Linked DNA regions of Homo sapiens. The protein of the gene in region 2 purifies or fractionates together with the protein of the main gene of each other region. This does not show direct contact. Each region holds a gene or a part of one and is shown on either strand. Other genes may lie near its edges.

Region 1 (3,645 bases), on a different chromosome or scaffold from region 2:
TTTATATATTAGGATCAAAAAGCCACATTAAAAGAGCAGAGCAGCATTTTCAGGAAACTAATGTTCTTGCTATTTTATCATTGCTTTTTGTGATTGTGGGTAAAATCACCAGCTCATTAGATTTTTTTCACTTCTGCAAATTGAATGGGTTAACTACATCAGGGTTTCTTAACCCACAGTATATGATGCACTTAAAGCATTTTTTAAAAGCTCTTAAAATTAAATACAAAATCTCATGTGTATGTTTATTTTTCTGGGACAAGAGGATATACAGCATTAATCAAATTCTCAAACACATCAATGACCTGCTCCCAAAAAGTGATTAAGAAAATGACGTCTTTTAATTTTAAAATTGTAGGATTCTTACAAATGTAACTCTAGGCATACTTGTCTTTGGAGGTGTGGCTGCATCATGGAATATTGAGGGCCGCTGTGCCTGGGTATCCCTGGTATTCTGGCAGCATTCTGAGCCAGTCTCATCTGATGGGCTTGAAAAGCTCCACAGTTCATGTTGCCTCTTTGCATTGTTTGCACACTGATCAATCGAGGAGGCTACAAAAAGTAGAAATTGCAATTTATGTAATAATTTTAAAATAAATTTATCTCAATTATAAAATGTAATCATAAAAATAATTCAGTCAAGATAAAAGGGTATAAAGTAAAAAGTATAAATAATTCTTATCGCTAGCCCCAATCCCCAGAGGACTGGTAATGACTAGTTTGTATATCACTCCCTAATTTCCCTTGTCTCTCTCTCTCTCTCTTACCTGTTCCCCCTCTTTTTCTCTATATGTGTGTTTAAAGCGTATCAACATTAACGTATCCCATCCTGGAGTAATAGTTTTGATTGGGATGGCAGTGGAGAGAGCAAAAGACACACAGGTATAGGAAAGATCTGAACAAATGCCTAAGGAACATATCAGATCCTAGGCAGAAACAGTCTGGTCCTTTGGTCCACAAAATTATACGTGGAAAACAAAAAAGATTTGATGTGAAAGGATGAGAACTTACATCCTTTCAGAGTATTAGTGAATTAATTTTGTTTCCCAAGACAATTTACTTACTGCCTTTCTTCACAGCTCCCTTACATCACCATCATAACCATAGCAAATATTTAAACTCTGACTTTTGAACTCTGCTCAGTCTTGCTAGTAACTTTGAAATGTGTAACTTAATTATATAGGAAAAAGTGTAGTGTTGAGGGCTTCATAATTTCTATCAATAATGTAGTAACACGATACTTACCTGTTGTTGTAACATCTGAGGGGCTGCTTGTCTAGGATGCTGTTGTGTTGTTGTTGTTGTAGTTGGTACAGGTGCTGGTGGTTGCTGCATCCTCATCTGTTGCAACTGCTGATGTTTCTGTGCATATACTTGTTGTTGCATGTGCTGGAGTCGAAGCTGTGCTAAGTTAATCTGTCCAGGGGTTTTACTAATGTGGTTTGTCCCTGGAGGAACTTGCCCAACTACAACATTAGGAGTATAACCAGGAGCTGGTTTACTCTCTATTACTAGATTACCTGAAAAATTTAAAAAATGAGAATTTGCATATAATCAACTAAATCATCTACTTTGTTGAGTAATCACCATGTTTTCCTCTTTCCTCTGACAACTATCAGCACCTCAAAGCTCCAACAGTACAGCAGGGAATGGAGTCAGTTTAAAGATGATGATGATGATCAGAAACTTAATACATTCCAAAGCTGAATAAATGACGTTTGGTTATTCAGAAAAATATACTCTCTGTCCTTATTCTTTTTTACTTAGACATACAGAAAATTAAGACAGTAAAAGAGATTATCTATTAGAAGAGGCCTATCTAATCAATCTAAATCAATTCTCCCATGACAAGACTTACTCAAGGATACTCAAGATTGCCAATACTGATTCCATCTGCCTTTGAATTGCCAAAATATGCAAGGCAGAGCATTACAATGTCACAAAATCGTCTTCTGTGGAAATACTGAATGCTTTAAACAACTTATATCCTTAGACGTGATGGTTTTCCTTGCTTTTTATGGAGCCATTGCCTTCTAGGGATAGAAGCCAAATTTTAGGAAGATGTGATTTAAGGCACAGGTTGACAGGCTTTCCCTGTAATGGGCTATAGAGTAAATATTTCATGCTTGGCAGGCCACATAAGATCTGTCTCACAGTCCTTGGTTTTTGTTTGCTTTTACAACCAGTTGAAAATGTAAAAACCATTCTTAGCTACTACGTCACACAAAAACAGCTGGCTGATGTCAGAACTAAGGCTATAGCTAAATTTGAATATAATTTTTTTTTATTATATGCAAAGATTACTTTTTTTTTTTTTTTAAAAAAAAAGGGCAACCAGCCTCTGCTTTTACAATTCCCACTGTTTAGGACTTAACTGTTCTGAAAGTGAGTTTACTCAATCTGTAAATAGCTCTCTAATTGCTAGGAAGTTTGTGTGCATGTGTTTTAACTGAGCTCTCTGTAACTTTCATCTATGGTCTTTAGGTCCATACTACGCTGTAACAAAAGGAAAATCCATTTCTCTTCCATGTGAAAAGAGCTACTCTTATCTTTCAAACATTCCTCAGGACCTAACTACTGGACACATTAGCATCCTAAAAGTCTGTTGCTAATGCACAATTTGGCTTAATTAAACAACTAAAAATCTATGAAATTATTCCAGACAATGAATCATTTGCTAAGATTTCTATATGAAACAGTCAATATAAATTTAAAAGATGGAGGGTCGGGGGACTAGAAACAGCACACATTAAAAAACAATATACAGAGTAGACGCTCAACTTTCTTAAGATGTAATAACAGCCACACAAAACCACAGCTAAAGTGAGTTTCCAATGAATAACAACATATTTTTACATAAAATGTAAAACATTAGTTTTATAAAGTTAAAAATTTTATCTAAATTTGCTTTAAGTATTTTCTCCTTCTAATTCAGTGTTCCAAGTTATATTCATAAAACTCATTATTTCTCACCTAAATTGACTACATTCTTTGCCCAGAAGGTGGGATCACAATGGAAACGTATTGCTCCATTAGCAGCAGGGACAGGATCACACCGTGCTTTCAAAATATGACGCAACTGGAAAGTAATCTTAAAGGGAAAAAAATCCACATTAGTCTCAAAATTAAATATCAATTGGGAAATCATAAGATAAAGACATTAAGAAAAAAAAGCACATATATTCCCACAGTGTCAGCCTCAGATTAGGCAGCATCAACATTTAAATTAGCAATCAAATCAAATATACATACTTGAATTTCTGCCATTTTGGGTAATAAAGTGCATTAAGATACTAGGTATCTTCAAAAGAGTACATACTATATAATTCCACTTATATGAAATTCTAAAAAATGACAGAAATCAGATTAGTGGCTGCCTAGTGGAATGAGGAAACTTTGGGGGGTGGTGGAAGTTTTCTGTATCTTGATGTGGTGGTGGTTACATTTGCCAAAATTAAAATGTATACTTTAAACAGGTGCAATTCACTGAATATATATCTTAATAAAGTCCATTAAAGAAAAATAAAAACAGTATGTGTCTCACCAGTCGCTTGCTGTATAGTAGTGCTGTGCTGCTGCCACTTGCAATTGCCCAATTTGTGAAGTTCATAACATGCTTCACCTGCCGGGAAAGGCCTGTGATGT
Region 2 (5,376 bases):
CCACTATTCCTGAGAACTCACTGCCAGTGTCCTAACTGCCATCTGTTGGAGGTCCCTGTGAAGATTACCCTTCACCTGCAATCTTTTTCAAGATCAGTGATTTTTCTGTTGTTCACGCCTAATTACTGCCTTTAATCACCTTATCCCTTTCTTATTCCTTTTTAATTATACTAAGGACATGGCAAAACAAAATTCCCTAAAAGGATATTATGGTTTTAGGGATGCCATCCAAATTCTCAGTCAGGCACACCATAAATTTATAAGTCATAAGGAGGAGCTATGACCCCCTCAAAAGAAAAAAAGCCAAATAATGATCTGTGGGGAGAAGACACTTGAATTCAAGCAAAAACAGCTGCTCAAATGGTATTACCTAAGCGTTAGAGACATGTGTCATGACCTAAAAAAAGTAAAAGACTAGTATAAGTTTTATACACCATTTCTATGAAACTTGGTATCGAGTATTAATGCTGCATATTCTCCCTATTATCTCTGATCCCCCCCAACAACAGCCACTGTCTTCCTGCCCCAAGAATTACTTACCTTTTATCAGATAAGGATCCAACATCTGTGCCTGTTCAAACTTGAGGACAGAGTTTTTATTGTCTCCAGCTCTGAAGTACAGATCTGCCAAGCTTCCCAATAGGTCCACGTTATCTCGCAATAAGGATTTTTTCTCTAGTGAACTTTAAGATATTTATTAAACATTGAACCTTTAAATCTATTATAAATCCTCTTAGTTGCTGAATCTGGATGATTGGTCATACAGATACTATTTTCTTTTGCATAAATATAAAATTCTTCGTAATAAAAAACTTTAAGCTTATGACTTTAAAAAAAGTTATATAGGACAGGATAGCAAAAACAAAGAATAAAGCAGAAGTCTCTCAGTACCAACAAATAACTCTGTGGTTGCAGTTCTTCAGAACACAACATACGCTACATGGTGTTAAAGGTAATGTCATTCACAAGTGACACCTATTTATTACTCAAGTAAACGACTTTGCATAACACAAGCCCAAGTCTCTTCTTGTCCTTGAACTTTATCTGAATATAAAGAAAATCCCTAGTCCTAAGCAGGCAAGCTAGGTTAGACACTGCAATAAACCAAGCTTCTGGTGAGTGCAAAATGATTTTCTTCCAGGCTGAAGAATGATACACCAAGGCCAGGCATGGTGGCTCACGTCTATAATCCCAGCACTTTGGGAGGCCCACGTGGGAGAATCACTTGAGCCCAGGAATTCAAGACCAGCTTGGGCAACATGGTGAAATCCCATCTCTACAAAAACATACAAAAATTAGCTGGGTGTGGTGGCATGCGCCTGTAGTCCCAGATACTCAGGAGGCTGAGCAGGAGGATGGTTTGAGCCCGGGAGATTGACAGGTCAAGGCTACACTGAGCTGTGACTGCGCCACTGCACTCTAGCCTGGGAGAGAGAGAGAGAGAGAGAGAGACAGAGAGACAGAGAGACAGAGAGAGAGAGAGAGAGAGAGAGAGAGAGACAGAGAGAGAGAGAGAGAGAGAGACAGAGAGACAGAGAGAGAGAGAGAGGCAGAGAGAGAGAGAGACAGAGAGAGAGAGACAGAGAGAGAGAGAGACAGAGAGAGAGAGAGAGAGAGAGAGAGAGAGAGAGAGAGAGAGAGAGAGACCGACCTTGTCTCAAAAAAAAAAAAAAAAATGACACACCAAGGTAGCCTGCTTTGCTTTGCAAGGGTTACTACCTGTGCAGGCACAGAGCTAAACTCAGTCAGATTTCTATTTTTACAGGTCTCCAACAGAGATGATTACATGATTACATTTGGGACCATTCAGTATAAAAGACTAACACATCCCAGAGACTGGCTGCAGCACCAACAGCAAAGCATCTCATTTTTCTTTTTGCTACTTCAGATACATCAGACTTCCAGACAAGCAAAGGGCCTCAAGAACACTGAATTAACTTTGTGGCTCTCACCAGATGGTACTGATTGCTCTTGAGTTGTCACCAGTGTGCACAAAAGCATACGCTTTGATCCACACAGAGAGCCAGTCCAAGTTAGGCACGGTTTGGATCACATTCATTGTCATGGATGCCACCTCTGCCCCTTTTACAGAAAGGGACAACAAGCCTAAACCAACAGAAAGCAGAAGAAAGAAAGTAAGGCACGATATCTCTCTTCCACATGCAAGGAGCAACGGGCTACATCTTCCCTTGGCTAAAAGGCAACTGCTTCCCTATTCTGAGCGATGCATGAGAGAAAAACCATAATTTAGTATTTCTTTTCTTTTTGAGACAGTGTCTTGTTCTGTCCCCCTGGGCTGGAATGCAGTGGCACAATCTCAGCTCACTGCAACCTCTGCCTCCTGGGTTCAAGCGATACTCATGCCCCAGCCTTCCGAGAAGCTGGGACTACAGGCACGCGCCACCATGCCTGGCTAATTTTTGTATTTTTAGTAGAGACGGGGTTGTGCCATGTTGCCCAGGCTGGTCTCGACCTGCTGAGCTCAGGCAATCCACCCACCTCAGCCTCCCAAGGTGCTAGAATTACAGGTGTAAGCCACCATGCCCGGCCAAAAACCATAATTAAGTATTTCTTGATTGAATATGTGACAACAGGAATCCTACTAAATCACTCTCTTCAGGGGAACTTTTAAAAAAAATAAAGTTATTCTAATGTACAGGCAAGATTGAGAACTACTATCTTTGACAGTAAACATGCCATGAAAACAGGCAGGAAATATCTCTACCTAGAATGGCATCAAGGGCTAATGGGCACTGCCTCAGCACCTCCTTATAGCTGGTGACTGAAGGGCGCTCCTGACCAGCCTTCTTGTACAGGTTTGCCAGCATCATGTTTATCTGTACAAACACAAATAACAGATAGCAAAATAAGCGTATATTGCAAAGAAAATCTCTCACCATGAAAAAGTCCTAATTTTCATTACCAGTTATTTACTTTTTACTGGAAAATCTACCCACAACCCTGTGCAAATAAAGGCAGACTGACCCCATTCTTCAAAAGAAAGAAGAAATTGGCCAGGTGCAGTGGCTCACGCCTGTAATCCCAGCACTTTGGGAGGCCGAGGTGGGTGGATCACGAGGTCAGGAGATTGAGACCATCCCGGCTAACACAGTGAAACCCCGTCTCTACTAAAAAATACAAAAAAATTAGCTGGGCGTGGTGGCGGGAGCCTGTAGTCCCAGCTACTCGGGAGGCTGAGGCAGGAGAATGGTGTGAAACCGGGAGGCGGAGCTTGCAGTGAACCGACATCACGCCACTGCACTCCAGCCTGGGCTACAGAGTGAGACTCCATCTTAAAAAAAAAAAAAAAAAAAAAGAAAAGAAAAGAAATTACTACCCTTCCTTTCCCTAGCTCCTGCCTTCCCTAAGAGGAAAGTCACATTACCTTCCCACAAGGCCCAGTAATATCTGAACAAAAGACGCTGCCCTCTGGAAACTGGAATAACATTCATTTAAGAAATGGTAGAGAACGCTAGTTAACTTGATTCTTTCTTGATCTTAAAACAGAAGATGAACTATCTCACATAAGAAAGTGAGAAACTCTTGACATAGCTAGTTAAGAAGGATCAGCTCAGTTTTTCCTAATAAGGAAATGATACAGAAAGACAGATAAAGAAGTATAATACTTGGCTTTTCTTTGACAATTCGACTTGTGGCTAGACTCTAGCCTTTCTAACACTTAAGGCTTTGGCCCGTAGGTACTAACTCACTAAAGTAATGCTACAAAAATCAGCTACACTATTTAAATCCAGTGAGTGCAGACAGCTGCATTTTAGCGTAATTTAAATATGTAACTTTGTAAAGCTAAATTAAAATAATCCTACCTAACATGCAACTGGGAAATGAGAAAATCTAAAAGTTCTGGCCGGGCGCAGTGGCTCATGCCTGTAATCCCAGCACTTTGGGAGGCCGAGGTGGGTGGATTACGAGGTCAGGAGATTGAGACCATCCCGGCTAACACAGTGAAACCCCGTCTCTACTAAAAAATACAAAAAATTAGCTGGGCGTGGTGGCGGGCGCCTGTAGTCCCAGCTACTCAGGAGGCTGAGGAAGGAGAATGACGTGAACCCGGAAGGCAGAGCTTGCAGTGAGCCGAGATCGTGCCACTGCACTCCAGACTGGGAGACAGAGCGAGACTCCGTCTCAAAAAACAACAAAAAAAACCCACAAAAACAAAAAAAAAGCCAGAAAATCTAAAAGTTCCTAAGAATGTAGAAGTTATAGGCAAGTGATAAAAGACCTTCCTAATAGTACACAGATAAACACAATATTCCAATTTAAAATTAGATTTTTTTTTTTGAGACGGAGTTTCACGCTTGTCACCCAGGCTAGAGTGCGATGGCACGATCTCAGCTCACTGCAACCTCTGCCTCCTGGGTTCAAGTGATTCTCCTGCCTCAGCCTCCTGAGTAGCTGGGATTACAGGCACCCGCCACCACGCCCAGCTAATTTTTTTTTTGTATTTTAAGTAGAGATGGTGTTTCACCATGTTGGCCAGGCTGGTCTTGAACTCCTGACCTCAGGTGATCCAACCACCTCGGCCTCCCAAAGTGCTGGGATTACAGGCGTGAGCCACCGTGTCTGGCAAAATTAGTAGATTTTAAACACAACAGTATTTGCTAGATCATTAACCTAAGGAAGCAGTCAATGTGAGGGCACAAAAGAAAAAAGGTCAACCCCCAATCTCTTCGATTTAACTGTGGCTTGGTATGCCAGATATTTATAGAAAGAGTGGCTCTAAAGATAAAGAACATCTGTTCCAATTATAGACCTACATTATATAAAACAATCTAATATAGCATTGATTCACACTAATTCAAACAATGGAATAATGAAATACTAAAAATAAAACTATTTTTTACTTGGCCTCAGATTTTCCATATTAGGCTACTATTTTGAAAATGCAAAGAAAAATACTTAAAAGGAAAACTCCAGGATTGATGTCAATACTTGTAAAGAATAAAAAGTTAAATTTAAGATCCTTTCTTGACTGCTGGTTATATTAACAAACTATGACTGATGGACTATCTTTCTCAACAAATATCAAAATTTCCTTTAAGCTACTTGACTGTCACTTTAAAAGAATGAGTTTTGAGTAATACCTAATGAAAAAGTCAATTATTGGCCGGGCGCAGTGGTTCACACCTCTAATCCTAGCACTTTGGGAGGCCGAGGTGGGTGGATCACGAGGTCAGGAGATCGAGACCAGCCTGGCCAACATGGTGAAACCCCGTCTCTACTAGAATACAAAAAATTAGGCAGGTGCAGCGGTACGCGCCTGTAGTACCAGCTACTCAGGAGGCTGAGACAGGAGAATCGCTTGAACCCAGGAGGTGGAGGTTGCAGTGAGCTGAGATCATGCCATTGCACTCCAGC
Region 3 (3,645 bases), on a different chromosome or scaffold from region 2:
TGAGAAGGCTTCCAGGATCAGAGCTGCTGAGAAGGTTTCCAGGGTGAGAGCTACTTTTTCTACCTCCTATTCCACAAGTCATCTCTATATCTTCTCCAATGCTCTTTCACCTAGCCTCACTTTAATCTATTCCTTTCTCATTATTCAGTTTTCTTCCATTTTTGTCACGCCTTGATTGGCTTCTATTCCTTTATCCTCGGCACCCGTTGTTTTCCATATCTGTTTCCTAAGTTGTATCTCCTACCTGACTCAAAAGAAAGACCCTTCGTGTTTCTTCTTTCTTTGCCCCAGCCATCCTTTTCCTTACCATCATCCACGTGTGGAGAACACTATAGTAGCATTATGGAGACAGGTCTGTGGGAAAAAGGTAGCTTCCCAGGTAGATCCCAGTCTAATGGAGGAGAGATCATAGACAGAAAGGAAAATCCAGTGAGCATATTTTTTGTTTTTGTTCTTTTTTGAGACAGAGTCTGTCTCTGTCACCCAGGCTGGAGTGTGCAGTGGCGTGATCTCAGCTTACTGTAACCTCCGTCTCTTGGGTTCAAACAATTTTCCTGCCGCAGCCTCCCAAGTAGCTGGGACTACAGGCGCATGTCACCCGGCTAATTTTTGTGTATTTTTTTGTTTTTTTTGAGACAGTCTCACTCTGTCACCCAGGCTGGAGTGCAGTGGCGCGATCTTGGCTCACTGCAACCTCTGCCTCCCGGGTTCAAGCGACTCTCCTCCCTCAGCCTCCCAGGTAGCTGGGACTACTAGGCGCCTGCCAACACACCTAGCTAATTTTTTTTTTTTTTTTTTTTTTTTTTAGACAGAGTCTTGCTCTGTCCCCCAGGCTGGAGTGCAGTGGCACCATCTCGGCTCACTGCAAGCTCCGCCTCCCGAGTTCACGCCATTCTCCTGCCTCAGCCTTCCAAGTAGCTGGGACTACAGGCGCCCGCCACCACGCCCGGCTAATTTTTTGTATTTTTTAGTAGAGACGGGGTTTCACCGTGTTAGCCAGGATGGTCTCGGTTTCCTGACCTTGTGATCCACCCGCCTCGGCCTCCCAAAGTGCTGGGATTACAGGCATCAGCCACCATGCCTGGCCTTTTTTTTTGTATTTTTAGTAGAGACGGGGTTTCACTATGTTGGCCAGGCTGGTCTTGAACTCCTGACCTCGTGATCCGCCCGCCTCGGCCTCCCAAAGTGCTGGGATTATAGCCGTGAGCCACCACGCCCGGTGGAAATCTGGTAAGCCTATCTAACCATAAACAAGTATCAAGAACAGTATCCAAGTTCTATCTCTTTTCTCCACCTCCTCCCCCTCACTTGCTTCTGTTTCTCCCTAGGGCGATCAGGAATCTCCAGATGCTTGTCTGCCTCCTACAGTACCTGAAGCCCCAGCCCCACCCCAAAAGCCCCTTAACTCTCAGAGCCAGAAACATCTTGCACCTCCGCCCCTTCTTTCTCCCCTTTTACCTTCTATCAAGCCAACCGTTCGTAAGACCAGGCAAGATGGGAGTCAGGAAGCTCCAGAGGCTCCCTTGTCCTCAGAGCTGGAGCCTTTCCACCCAAAGCCTAAAATTAGAACTCGGAAGTCCTCCAGAATGACACCCTTTCCAGCTACCTCTGCTGCCCCTGAGCCCCACCCTTCCACCTCCACAGCCCAGCCAGTCACTCCCAAGCCCACATCTCAGGCCACTAGGAGCAGGACAAATAGGTCCTCTGTCAAGACCCCTGAACCAGTTGTCCCCACAGCCCCTGAGCTCCAGCCTTCCACCTCCACAGACCAGCCTGTCACCTCTGAGCCCACATCTCAGGTTACTAGGGGAAGAAAAAGTAGATCCTCTGTCAAGACCCCTGAAACAGTTGTGCCCACAGCCCTTGAGCTCCAGCCTTCCACCTCCACCGACCGACCTGTCACCTCTGAACCCACCTCTCAGGCTACTAGGGGAAGAAAAAATAGATCCTCTGTCAAGACCCCTGAACCAGTTGTCCCCACAGCCCCTGAGCTCCAGCCTTCCACCTCCACAGACCAGCCTGTCACTTCTGAGCCCACATATCAGGCTACTAGGGGAAGAAAAAATAGATCCTCTGTCAAGACCCCTGAACCAGTTGTGCCCACAGCCCCTGAGCTCCGGCCTTCCACCTCCACAGACCGACCTGTCACCCCCAAGCCCACATCTCGGACCACTAGGAGCAGGACAAATATGTCCTCTGTCAAGACCCCTGAAACAGTTGTCCCCACAGCCCCTGAGCTCCAGATTTCCACCTCCACAGACCAACCTGTCACCCCTAAGCCCACATCTCGGACCACTAGGAGCAGGACAAATATGTCCTCTGTGAAGAACCCTGAATCAACTGTCCCTATAGCCCCTGAGCTCCCACCTTCCACCTCCACAGAGCAGCCTGTCACCCCTGAGCCCACATCTCGGGCTACTAGGGGAAGAAAAAATAGATCCTCTGGCAAGACCCCTGAAACACTTGTCCCCACAGCCCCTAAGCTCGAGCCTTCCACTTCCACAGACCAACCTGTCACTCCTGAGCCCACATCTCAGGCCACCAGGGGCAGGACAAATAGGTCCTCTGTGAAGACCCCTGAAACAGTTGTCCCCACAGCCCCTGAGCTCCAGCCTTCCACCTCCACAGACCAGCCTGTTACCCCTGAGCCTACGTCTCAGGCTACTAGGGGAAGAACAGATAGATCCTCTGTCAAGACTCCTGAAACAGTTGTCCCCACAGCCCCTGAGCTACAGGCTTCCGCCTCCACAGACCAGCCTGTCACCTCTGAGCCCACATCTCGGACCACTAGGGGAAGAAAAAATCGGTCCTCTGTCAAGACCCCTGAAACAGTTGTGCCCGCAGCCCCTGAGCTCCAGCCTTCCACCTCCACAGACCAACCTGTCACCCCTGAGCCCACATCTCGGGCCACTAGGGGCAGGACAAATAGGTCCTCTGTCAAGACCCCTGAATCAATTGTCCCTATAGCCCCTGAGCTTCAGCCTTCCACCTCCAGAAACCAGCTTGTCACCCCTGAGCCCACATCTCGGGCCACTAGGTGCAGGACAAATAGGTCCTCTGTCAAGACCCCTGAGCCAGTTGTCCCCACAGCCCCTGAGCCCCATCCTACCACCTCCACAGACCAGCCTGTCACCCCCAAGCTCACATCTAGGGCCACTAGGAGAAAGACAAATAGGTCCTCTGTCAAGACTCCCAAACCAGTTGAACCAGCAGCCTCTGATCTTGAGCCTTTTACCCCCACAGACCAGTCCGTCACCCCTGAGGCCATAGCTCAGGGTGGTCAGAGCAAAACACTGAGGTCTTCCACAGTAAGAGCTATGCCGGTTCCTACCACCCCTGAATTCCAATCTCCTGTCACCACAGACCAGCCTATTTCCCCTGAGCCTATTACTCAACCCAGTTGCATCAAGAGGCAGAGAGCCGCTGGGAACCCTGGCTCCCTCGCAGCTCCCATTGACCATAAGCCTTGCTCTGCACCCTTGGAACCTAAATCCCAGGCCTCAAGGAACCAAAGATGGGGAGCAGTGAGAGCAGCTGAATCCCTTACAGCCATTCCTGAGCCTGCCTCTCCCCAGCTTCTTGAGACACCAATTCATGCCTCCCAGATCCAAAAGGTGGAACCAGCAGGTAGATCTAGGTTCACCC
Region 4 (3,645 bases), on a different chromosome or scaffold from region 2:
TGTTTTGGAAGAAAAATACTTTGTGGGCAAGAAGGTGATTTAAATTCCTGACGGCCTAAGAGGCGTCAGCTGTGTGAAATAGGCGAGTGCTGTTACTGCTTGAAACCATGATGGTTTATATTTGAATAAGACAGCAGAGATGAGCTTGTTGGGAGTTTGGCCTGAGATTGCTAGCTAAGGAATGCTTGCTTTTTTGCTTAAAGGGAAAAGTGTTTTAGGCTTCCAGAGTAGAAATCTGATATTACTTCGTTTGATTCTTCGACCACTATGGTGATAGGAAGTAGCTGATCTCTGCAGGAAACTGCTGTTACCTGGCCTCAGCTGAATTTTTGTGGGACCTCCTGAGGTAAGCAAATTTATGCCTCCCGAAACTATAGTTGTAAGGTTTGTCTTTGAGCATATAGTAATGGAAAACCCTTATCAGTAGGTAGATAGTAAATAATTTTGTATTTGGCTGCTAATGAAATTTTTAAGAAATAGTTTGTGGTGATATAAATTAGTTTTCATCTGGCAGTCATTGGTTTTCCACCCTGCCCTCTTAAGAGAGAACAGGGTTGCTTTACTTTGTTTGCCAGAGCTTTACATTTTGCATTTAGTAACAGAGGCATTGTGTTTTTATAGTATGAAAACAACGAAAGATCACTTTGTGATCTTTACTTTTTGATTTTGACCACTTCCTGTGTAACCTTAAGTTTCTTACAAGTATCCCCTGTTAACTGTTAAAAACGAAATGTATGTTCATTTCATGTCCTTGGGACTTTTAAAAATGCGCTGTGCATTATCTGGAAAAGCCTGTTCAAAAACAAGATGAGATAATTTCTGTTTAATTTGTGGTAGAAAGAATGACTGTGCACTTTTATGTGCAAAGGTTTTAAGTATAATAATTAAAATAGTACTTGTTTACTCAGTTACCGAAAAGTAGCTTTCAGTGATTTGCATCTGTTTACTTATTCATGAGCATCTTCTATGTACTGGGCACAGTTCTAGGTACTGGGGCCTCCCGCAGAATAAAACAGAAGTCTTTGTCCTTGTTTCTGCTATGGGAGACAGACGAACAAGTTCAATGGTGGCAGGTGCTTTTGAAAAACAGTGCAGAGGAGTAGGGACTTTGGTGGTTGCAATATGAAATAGGTAGAGAGGGAAGTGCCTTATTGACAAGATGACAAGATCTTTTAATATGTACTGGATTAAGAAGTTAGCCTCATTGAGTCGTATGCTAATGAACTGCCCAGAAAAGAAGGGTGGAGGAGATGGGAGTGCAGCAGTAAAGACTGCTGCGCCCCAAGTAAAATGTAGTGTTTTGGTTAAGGAAAGGAAATCATTTTTTGCTTTCTTCTTGAAACCCCAGGGCTTGGCACCGCAGAAGTCTCTGAAGAGACAGTCTGCTGCTGTTTGGAGGCAGGTATTTCAGTAGATCTTGTAACCAAACATGAATGACTAAGGCAGTGTTTCTCCTCTGTGTCTTCAGAAACTGCTTGAGATGTGTGCATGCAGTCCCGGGCACCATGCGTGCTGGGTACTGGTAACACAGAGACAAGTTGTCATTTGGTAGCAGTGAGTTAAGCAAAGATTTCTTGGCAACCAGTCTCATCCCGAGTCTGTTGCTGGGCCTTGGGACTTCTGTATTGAGCAAGTAGACAGGGTCCCTGCCCTCGTGGAACTTGTTCTTTAGTGGGCAAACATGTATTATTCATTGCTTTTTTTTTTTTTTTTTTTTTGAGGTGGAGTCTCGCTCTGATGCCCAGGCTGGAGTGCAGTGGCGCGATCTCGGCTCACTGCAGCCTCTGCCTCCCAGGTTCAAGCAATTCTCCTGTCTCAGCCTCCCAAGTAGCTGGGATTACAGGTGCTCACCACCACGCCTGGGTAATTTTTGTATCTTTTTAGTAGAGACGGGTTTCACCATATTGGTCAGGCTGGTCTCGAACTCCTGACCTCAGGTGGTCTGCCCACCTGGGCCTCTCAAAGTGCTGGGATTACAGGCGTGAGCCACCGTGCCCAGCCTATTCATTGCTTTTAAACATTATCATGGGCCTGGCATGGTGGCTCACGCCTGTAATCACAGCACTTTGGGGGAAGCTGAGGTGGGCAGATCACCTGAGGGTCAGGAGTTTGAGACCCTCTCCCGCCTTGGGTGACAGAGCGAGACTCCACCTCAAAAAACAACAACAACAACAAAAAACCCAGAACATTATCATGGAAAGTTTAACAACATGATTAACTTCTGATCCTGGAGAGTGGTAATGATAGACTGGATCAGGAGTCTACTGGCCTGGGCAATAGAAATGAAATCTGGACTGTCTCAGGGCTTCGTATAATCACCAGCTTTTGTGGGTGGGGATGTTGGGGTGTCCTACAGGGGTATCTTGATTCCTTCTGAGAACAGATCATTTCTTTGTCCTTTCTGATGTCCTAATCTAAAACATCCAGTACTCCTGGAGGATTTGAACTTGTGCCCAATGGCTGGTCAGACTCTCTTGGATTGAGAATGTTGGATTGCCATTCCTCAGACTGAATGTGGGCCAAGCAATTGTGCTTTAGAAATTTATCTTAGAGTGCGGTGGCTCATACCTGTAATCCCAGCACTTTGGGAGGTTGAGGCAGGTGGATCACCTGAGGTTGGGAGTTCGAGACCAAGTCTGGCCAACATGGTGAAACCCTGTCTCTACTAAAAATACAAAAAAAAAAAAAAATTAGCTGGGCATGGTGGTGGGCACCTGTAACTCCAGCTACTTGGGAGGCTGAGGCAGGAGAAACTGGGAGGTGGAGGTTGCAGTGAGCCGAGATCGCGCCACTGCACGCCAGCCTGGGCAACAAGTGCGAAACTCTATCTCAAAAAAAAAAAAAAAAATTTACTACCATCCCTAATTTTGTAGGATATATAGGATTTGTAAGGAAATTATAAGGAGTCTTGTGAAAACATTAATTACATTTGAATTAATTTTAATCCTTCAGTTATCTCCCATAAAGACATTGAGGACCTTTGAGTTTATTAAGACAGAGTAAATATATAAAAGTTTTGGGGAGTACGACTACACTCTCTAGCTTTGTCTCTCAAACGTGGCCCAATTTTTTTTTCCTTTCTTTTTCTTTTTTTTTTTTTTGAGACAGGGTCTGGCTCTGTCGCCCAGACTGGAGTCTAGTGGGGCAATCTTGGCTCACTACAACCTCCGCCCCCCAGGTTCAAGCAGTTCTCCTGCCTCAGCCTCCTGAGTAGCTGGGACCTCAGGCGTGTGCCACCATGCCCAGCTGATTTTTGTATTTTTAATGGAGATGGAATTTCACCACGTTGGCCAGGCTGACCTCGAACTCCCGACCTCATGTGATCCGCCCGCCTTGGTCTCCCAAAGTGCTGGGATTACAGGCGTGAGCCACCGTGCCTGGCCATGGCCCAATTTTATAGTTACTCTAGCTATGGAGTAGATGTTTTCAGTTCAAAATTAGGAATTTAAGGTTATATTTTGTTACAAAAATCTTTAAAAATTTCATAAGAAAACAGTTGTTTGGGGTACAAAGAAATTAATCCATAAATAGGATTGTTACAGTGACTAATATAAATAAAAGAACATTTGTGTAATCATGGGAATTATTTTATTTTATTTTTCCTCGACCCAATTAACTGGGTGAAAATTTGCTTGCCAGTTCAGA

The links. The genes of interacting proteins can lie anywhere in the genome.
Region 1: the proteins of ANAPC7 (region 2) and TRIM33 purify together in Homo sapiens (affinity purification with western blotting, with the first as the bait; one study listed by BioGRID). This does not show direct contact.
Region 3: the proteins of ANAPC7 (region 2) and MDC1 purify together in Homo sapiens (affinity purification with western blotting; 2 studies listed by BioGRID, with this or other methods). This does not show direct contact.
Region 4: the proteins of ANAPC7 (region 2) and NAP1L4 fractionate together in Homo sapiens (co-fractionation; one large-scale study listed by BioGRID). This does not show direct contact.

What each region holds. Positions count from the first base shown.
Region 1 is NC_000001.11:114,424,204-114,427,848, forward strand, and holds part of TRIM33 (E3 ubiquitin-protein ligase TRIM33), read right to left. Parts: coding exon 3,545-3,645; intron 3,092-3,544; coding exon 2,974-3,091; intron 1,521-2,973; coding exon 1,246-1,520; intron 553-1,245; coding exon 388-552; coding exon of another isoform or gene 368-387; intron 1-367. UniProt on the Homo sapiens protein: Acts as an E3 ubiquitin-protein ligase. Promotes SMAD4 ubiquitination, nuclear exclusion and degradation via the ubiquitin proteasome pathway. According to PubMed:16751102, does not promote a decrease in the level of endogenous SMAD4.
Region 2 is NC_000012.12:110,385,787-110,391,162, forward strand, and holds part of ANAPC7 (anaphase-promoting complex subunit 7), read right to left. Parts: intron 2,838-5,376; coding exon 2,726-2,837; intron 2,107-2,725; coding exon 1,953-2,106; intron 684-1,952; coding exon 541-683; intron 1-540. UniProt on the Homo sapiens protein: Component of the anaphase promoting complex/cyclosome (APC/C), a cell cycle-regulated E3 ubiquitin ligase that controls progression through mitosis and the G1 phase of the cell cycle.
Region 3 is NC_000006.12:30,703,782-30,707,426, reverse strand, and holds part of MDC1 (mediator of DNA damage checkpoint protein 1), read left to right. Parts: coding exon 1-43; intron 44-1,328; coding exon 1,329-3,645. UniProt on the Homo sapiens protein: Histone reader protein required for checkpoint-mediated cell cycle arrest in response to DNA damage within both the S phase and G2/M phases of the cell cycle.
Region 4 is NC_000011.10:2,985,830-2,989,474, reverse strand, and holds part of NAP1L4 (nucleosome assembly protein 1-like 4), read left to right. Parts: intron 1-203; exon of another isoform or gene 204-346; intron 347-1,348; exon of another isoform or gene 1,349-1,398; intron 1,399-3,645. UniProt on the Homo sapiens protein: Acts as a histone chaperone in nucleosome assembly.